Linked DNA regions of Homo sapiens. The protein of the gene in region 1 interacts with the protein of each later gene in a pairwise test. Each region holds a gene or a part of one and is shown in the gene's direction. Other genes may lie near its edges.

Region 1 (3,824 bases):
AGTGCAGTGGCATGATCTCTGCCCACTGAAACCCTCTGCCTCCCCAGTTCAAGTGATTCTCTTGCCTCAGTCTCCTGAGTGGCTGGGATTACAGGCATGCACCACCATGCCCACCTAATTTTTGTTTTTGTATTTTTAGTAGAGACAGGGATTCACCATGTTTTCCAGGATGGTCTCGAACTCCTGACCACAAGTGGTCCTCCCAGCTTGGCCTCCCAAAATGCTGGAATTGCCAGGCATGAGCCCTGATGCCAGGCCAAAAATCTCTTTCTGATTAAGAGAAACCACATTTGCCAAGTACAAATGAAGTCCTAAAAATTATCTTATATATAACTATATGTTACATTTATAGATACTTAAAAAATTGAATGAAAAATGGGTATTGATGAATTGCCTTGTGGTACAGCAGAGAGTCCTGGCTTGAGAGTTAAGAAATTTGTCTGCTGATTACTGTCTGAAAGTCAGAAGAATCATTTCCATTATCTGGGTCAACATTCAATCAGAAGAAATAGGGGTGATTTTAAAATGTATTCATTCAGTTTTGATTATTTATTACTTCCCTGATGGTTCATTTTTAAAAAGTGAATGATATGTTTGTTGGCCATTTGTATATCTTCTTTTGAGAATTGTCTATTCATGTCCTTAGCCCATTTTTTGATGGGATTGTTTGTTTATTTCTTGGTGATTTGTTTGGGTTCATTGCAGATTCTGGATATTAGTCCTTTGTTAGATGTATAGATTGTGAAGATTTTCTCCCACTCTATGGGTTGTCTGTTTACTCTGCTGACTGTTCCTTTTGCCGTGCAAAAGCTCCTTAGTTTAATTAGGTCCCAGCTATTTATCTTTGATTTTATTGCATTTGTTTTTGGCTTCTTCGTCATTAAATCCTTGCATAAGCCATTATCCTAAGTGAAGTAACTCAGGAGTGGAAAATCAAACATCATATGTTCTCACTTATAAGCGGGAGCTAAGCTATGAGGATGCAAAGGCATAAGAATGACACAATGGACTTTGGGGACTCAGGGGGAAAGGTGGGAAGGAGGTGAGGGATAAAAGGCTACAAATTGTGTGCAGTGTATACTGTTTGGGTGATGGGTGCACCAAAATCTCACAAATTACCACTAAAGAACTTATCCATGTAACCAAACACCACCTGTTCCCCAATAACGTATGGAAATAAAAAAAATTTAAAAAATAAAATGAATAAAACTAATTGCATGGAAAGACTAAATAAATAAATAAATAAATAAATAAATAAATAAAGTGAGCAGCATCAAGTACAATTCTGTGTCCTAGGATGTGAATTTAAAAGGGAGGTTTGTATGACTATTGCTGGATATCTGCTAATTGAGGGAGGACCAAGAAGAAAATGGTTGAGACTTAATATTCCTTTATCTGTTTTCCTTCCTATTTTCAAACAGTTCTGTAGTTCAGGAACCTTGTCTGTTGTAGCAGGGATAAAACCCACAAGAACATGGGTAAGTAGCACTTCCTCTTTTTCTATGATCAGAGGAGTAGAAATATATTATTCATAAACAGTAGGACAGTAAGTGTCCATGAATACAACTGAGACACTGAGTATCATTTAATGCACAAAATATTAGTTTTCTTAACGTGTTCAGATGGTAGGTCAGCAGATCACATACATTGTGAGGATGCATTCCTGGGATGCTTGCTCTTAATATTGGTGAACTTGAAGCTTAGAAAAAGTCTTCTTGATTTTTATGTGTTGTCAAGTTTGACCAATTCTAATTATTTGGAAGTAAGAACTCCCACCACTAACTAGTTTGACAACTGAAAGTCCAAACTTCTATTCTAAACAACTGCTAAGTCTCTATGATGTGTTCTTAGTGAGTCACGTAGCCACTGATACTCCACTTTCCTACTCCATTCATTCACTTTCCCTCCTCCATGGATAGCTATTTTACCATTTTATTGTATCCTCAAACACCAATCCCACTTCTGTCATCCTTACTCTCTGCTGATGATTTTTCTGTCTCTTCTGAGAAAACTGAAGCCATTAGAAGGGAATTTTCAGACCTCCACTACTAATGGACTAGATCTGTACCAATGTATTTTTTTCTTCTAGCCTCTTACCATAGGAAAATTTTGTGATTTTCTTTAAAGCTGATCTCCCTACTTGAGTATAAGATTCCATTCTTTTTTTCCCCACACAAGTGCATCACTTTAATTTTTGTCTCTCTGCTATATATATATTTTTCGAGTCTCACTCTGTCACCCAGATGGGAGTGCAGTGGTGTGGTCACAGCTCACTACAGCCTCCACCTTCCAGGGCTCATGCAATCCTCCCACCTCAGCCTCTCACATAGCTGGGACTACAGGTGTGTGCCACCATCCCTGGCTAATTTTTGTCTTTTTTTTTTTTTTTTTTGTAGAGACAGGATCTTGCCATGTTGCCCAGGCTGGTCTCAAAATCTTGGGCTCAAGCAGTCCTCCTGCCTCAGCCTCCCAAAAGGCTGGGGTTACAGGCGTGAGTTACCTTGCCCCATCTCTAATCAGCATGTAAACATCCAGTTACTGTTCTCAACTTAAAAACAAAACAAAACAAAACAAAACAAGAAAACCTTGACATTATTTCTCCCTGCTAGGGACAGGCACAATTTGTATTTTCCTTCTGTAGCTAAACTCCTTCAAAGGAATCATCATGTTCTTTCTCTGATTTCCATCTACCGGTTTGAATCAAACCCACTTCAATAAGACTTTATTTTATTCCCTACTATCCTTCTGTAACTGCTGTCTTTAAGATCACTGAAAACTTCCACCCTGCTAAAACAACGGTCAACTCTTGTTCCTCATCTAACTTAAGCTATGAGTAGCATTTAGCATAGTTAGTCGCCCACTCCTCCTTCCAGGAATTTCCTCACTTGGCTTCCAGCATACATTGCTTGGCTGGTTTTCCTCCCATCTTTTGCTTTCTCCATCTCAGTCTCCTTTCCTGGTTCCTCTCCTTGTCTCTGACCTTTTAATGTTCTGGTGCCCCAGAGCTGAATTCTTTGCCACCTGCTCTTCTCAATCTATACGTACTTCTTCTGTGATCTCACACATTCTTATGACTTCAAGTAATATCTGTATGCCCACAACCCTGAAATAAGTATTTCCAGCCCAGGTGTCTCTCCTGATCATCAGACTGGCATGTAAAGATCCAAAGCTCAACTCCCAGTCTTCTTCCTCAAACCTTCTCCTCATGTCAGCTGATGGGAATGTCATCCTTCCAGATTCCCAGACCAAACACCTTAGAATAACCAAGAGTCTTCTTTCTTTCACAATCCTGAATCCTATTTATCAGCAAATAATGTTGGCTCTACTTTCAAGCTATTATTATATCCAGTTTTGACCTTTTCTTATCTTTCTATTGATGACATTTCATCCAATCCACCTTGTCTCTCCTAATTGGGCTTCTAGCTTTTATCGTTGAACTTCTCTTTGCCTTGCTAGAAACAGTGATCCCTTGAAACCATAAAGCCAAGTATATCATTTATTTGCTCCAAATCCTTCATTGGCTTTGTATTTTTCTTAGAGTTAGAAACAAGTTCCTTTTCATGATCTGCAGAGCCCCACATGATTTGGCTCTCTGTTAACTTTCCTTCTTCTTCATTTCCTAGTATTGACTACGTGCCTCCAACGCCCTTGACCCCTTTGCTGCCCCAGAAGATTCTGGCCTCAGGATTTTGAGTGTTTCCCTAATTTCAAGGATATTCCCCCAGATATCCTCCTGGCTGGCACCCACAGCTCTTTCATGCCTCTCCCCAGTGTCATTTCTATTTAATATCATGAACCCCCACTCCTCTCTTTGGATTCCCAGA
Region 2 (3,824 bases), on another chromosome or scaffold:
ACTCATTCTCTGTCCAGTTTTGTTCCCTTGCTGGCGAGGAGTTGTGATCCTTTGGAGGAGAAGAGGTATTCTGGTTTTTGGAATTTTCAGCCTTTTTGCTCTGGTTTTTCCTCATCTTCGCGGATTTATCTACGTTTGGTCTTTGATGTTGGTGACTTTTGAATGGGGGTTTCTGCGTGGGCGTCCTTTCCGTTGATGTTGATGCTATTGCTTTCTGTTTGTTAGTTTTCCTTGTAACAGTCAGGCCCCTCTTCTGCAGGTCTGCTGGAGTTTGCTCGAGGTCCACTCCAGACCCTGTTTTCCTGGGTATCACCAGTGGAGGCTGCAGAACAGCAAAGATTGCTGCCTGCTCCTTCCTCTGGAAGTTTCGTCCCAGAGGGGCACCTGCCGGATGCCAGCTGGAGTTCTCCTGTACGAAGTGTCTGTCGACCCCTGCTGGGAGGTGTCTCCCCGTTAGGAGGCGCGGGGTTCAGGGACCCACTTGAGGAGGCAGTCTGTCCCTTAGCAAAGCTCGAGCACTGTGCTGGGAGATCTGTTGCTCTCTTCGGAGCCAGCAGGCAGAAATGTTTAAGTCTGCTGAAGCTGTGCCCACAGCCATCCCTTCCGCCAGGTGCTCTCTCCTAGGGAGAAGGGAGTTTATCTATAAGCCCCTGACTGGAACTGCTGCCTTTCTTTCAGAGATGCCCTGCCCAGAGTGGAGGAATCTAGAGAGGCAGTCTGGCTACCATGGCTTTTCCACACTGTGGTGGGTTCCGCACCCAGTTCAAACTTCCGACTGGCTTTGTTTACACTGTGAGGGGAAAACTGCCCACTCAAGCCTCAATAATGGTGGATGCCCCTCCCCCCACCAAGCTGGAACATCCCAGGTTGACTTCAGACTGCTGTGCTGGCAGTGAGAATTTCAAGCCAGTGGATCTTAGCTTGTTGGGCTCCGTTGGGGGTGGGATCCACAGAGCAAGACCACTCAGCTCCCTGGCTTCAGCCCTCTTTCCAGGGGAGTGAATGGTTCTGTCTTGCTGGCATTCCAAGTACCACTCAGTTGGAAATGCAGAAATCACCCGTCTTCTTTCTGCATTGGTCTTGCTGGGAGCTGCAGACCAGAGCTGTTCCTATTCAGCCATCTTGCCCGGGAATCCCACATTTTCTTTATCTACTCATTAATTGATGGGCATTTGGGCTGGTTTTACATTTTTGCAGTTGGAAATTATGTTGCTATAAACATGTGTGTGCAAGTATCTTTTTCATATAATGACTTCTTTTCCTCTGGGTATATACCTAGTTGTAGGATTGCTGGTCAAATGGTAGTTCTACTTTTAGTTCTTTAAGGCATCTCCACACTGTTTTCCATAGTGGTTGTACTAGTTTACATTTCCACCAGCAGTGTAAAAGTGTTCCCTTTTCACCACATCCGTGCCAACAATATATTTAGAACAAGTATTTGGTCAACTAACACATCATTCTCTATACTGGGCAATAAGTAAATTTCACAGACCATCAGCACTGGGGAACACACTTTGCGAAGCCCTCATGGTGGACTATAGTTAAAGGAACATAGATCTACCTTTCAGCCCTTCCAGATCTGCAGTCACAGCCCTACACTTGTACTTTGCCAATCTTAATAAAGCTTAAAGCCTGGAGTACAAATGAGGCTGAGGACTACAACCAGGTACTTGTTACAGAAGAAACACAGAATACAGAATCCTTGCTTAGGATGAATCCCTGTAATTATATTCCTAGAAATATAAGAAATTGAAATTCATATTCAAAATATAATTGAAACATATAAATGATTACGTGAAATGACTTTATAAAGTAGCTATATAAGTGTTTAAACATACCTGTTACATATGACGAAAAACTGACTTTTTTACTTGCTTTATTATTACTTATAGGTTGTAAATTTAAAGATGTTAGAAGAAATGTCCAAAAAGATACAGGTAGGTATAATATCACGCAACCACACTCATGGGTTTTTTAAATGAATAGCATTGAAAAACTCTCTGTCAAAAAGAACAAATCAGTTTTTTTTTAATATAAAAATAAGTTTTCAATATTGTGTGAAGTTCCAAACTATAGACTTATTCTGATATGTAAAGAGGTATTTGTGAAGACCATCATTTACCTAACCATGGAGTTGCTTTTCACTGATTGTTGTAGTTATATTATACATATAAACTACATTTGAGGTTAGAATGTAGAAGTTGGCATGAAAAAAAGTATGTAAATAGGAAACTGACATATTGCTCCCCCCAGGTCTTTACTGTTCCTTGCAGACTTGACTGTGGTAGTAGAAATTAAACATGAGCTGGGAACTCCAAGTTAGCAGTGAAATTGTGAATCCTGGATGGAAAATTTTGAGAGCCAGCATCTAGATGGAAAAGACAGAATGGGAACTGGTTGTTGCCTGCTCAAGGATGTTCATACCATTATAGCCACAAGTCTAATAATCCTCATAATCTGCCCCAATTTGGAATTTACATATTGCATGATACTAACAAATGTGGATTTTCAAAAGATTTTATTCTGATTGGCCTGGAATGTCTCAAACCTACTAGTCCTACCGATATCCTTATAGTATGGCAAATTAAAATGTATATATTGCTTGATTCTAACTAGTATAGATTTTCTGAATCTTAAAAACTTTTCGTGGTTATTCTAGAACATCAGTTTGCTAATGTACTTTTAAAAATTTATTCCTGGTCAGGTGCAGTGGTTCACACCTGTAATCCCAGCATTTTGGTAGGCCGAGGCGGGTTGATCGCTTGAGCTCAGGAGTTCGAGACCAGCCTGGGCAACAAGGCAAAACCCTGTCTCTGCAAAAAATACAAAAATTAACTGGGCATGATGGCGCGTGCTTGTAGTCCCAGCAACTTGGGAGGCTGAGATGGGAGGATCACTTGAGCCCAGGAGGTCAAAGCTGCAGTGAGCTGAGATGGTGCTGAGATCACAAGGTCTTGCTCTGTCATCCAGGCTGGAGTGCAATGAGCTGAGATTGCATTACTGCACTCCAACCTGGTGGCAGAGCAAGACCCTGCCTCAAAAAAAAAAAAAAAGTATTCCTTACCTACCAAAAAAAGACTTAAAGACAGTAATAGATAGTTGACCCTTATAGTATTTATAAAACTTTTCTGCTTTAGACACACCCACCATGCTAGGAAATTTCTATTTGGAGAACATTTAGGTCATAAGCAAAATATATGTAATTTAAATCATTGGTTCAAAGTCAGTCTTGTACATTTTGGAATGTCATATTCATTTAGCATTTTCTATAAAAACAGTTTCCAATTTTTTTCAAAATACTTTTTTTTCTGCAATGAAATCTTAAATGGAATCCAGTACATAAAACAGGTCAATATGTTTGATTGGAGACCTAGAATCTCCCTGCAGCAGTTCCTGAGATACTTTCTTAGCCCTTTCTCAGAAAGTTGGAAAATCACTGGATAATAAAAATTACCAAATGTGTACAAAAGGCAAATAGATGTATAGTACTGTACATCTCAGGGATTAGTTCATGAGAAGGTACTTTGTACTTAAATAGCTACATGTCCTTGGATTTAAGGGACAGGGAGAGGGCTGGAGTTGGGAGCACTTAGATCATCCAGTTATTTATTTTAAACCAAATGCTCAATAGTTAATATTGCCATAAAGAAGTCCTAGTGTATAGAATGCCTATAGTATTCATATCATTATAATGAGAATAGCTAGGTCACAGAAGTTTAATACAGGTAATGTTTTATTTACTGGCGACCTAGTCTATAAAATTAAATACACAAGGATGTGTTACAGTGCAGATATGAGGGAGAATACTAGCACCTCTGACACCA

What was found.
Region 2: the proteins of MS4A3 (region 1) and CDKN3 interact in a two-hybrid assay, tested with the Homo sapiens proteins (one study listed by BioGRID).

What each region holds. Positions count from the first base shown.
Region 1 is NC_000011.10:60,062,841-60,066,664, forward strand, and holds part of MS4A3 (membrane-spanning 4-domains subfamily A member 3), read left to right. Parts: intron 1-1,421; coding exon 1,422-1,478; intron 1,479-3,824. UniProt on the Homo sapiens protein: Hematopoietic modulator for the G1-S cell cycle transition. Modulates the level of phosphorylation of cyclin-dependent kinase 2 (CDK2) through its direct binding to cyclin-dependent kinase inhibitor 3 (CDKN3/KAP).
Region 2 is NC_000014.9:54,406,853-54,410,676, forward strand, and holds part of CDKN3 (cyclin-dependent kinase inhibitor 3), read left to right. Parts: intron 1-1,892; coding exon 1,893-1,937; intron 1,938-3,824. UniProt on the Homo sapiens protein: May play a role in cell cycle regulation. Dual specificity CC phosphatase active toward substrates containing either phosphotyrosine or phosphoserine residues. Dephosphorylates CDK2 at 'Thr-160' in a cyclin-dependent manner.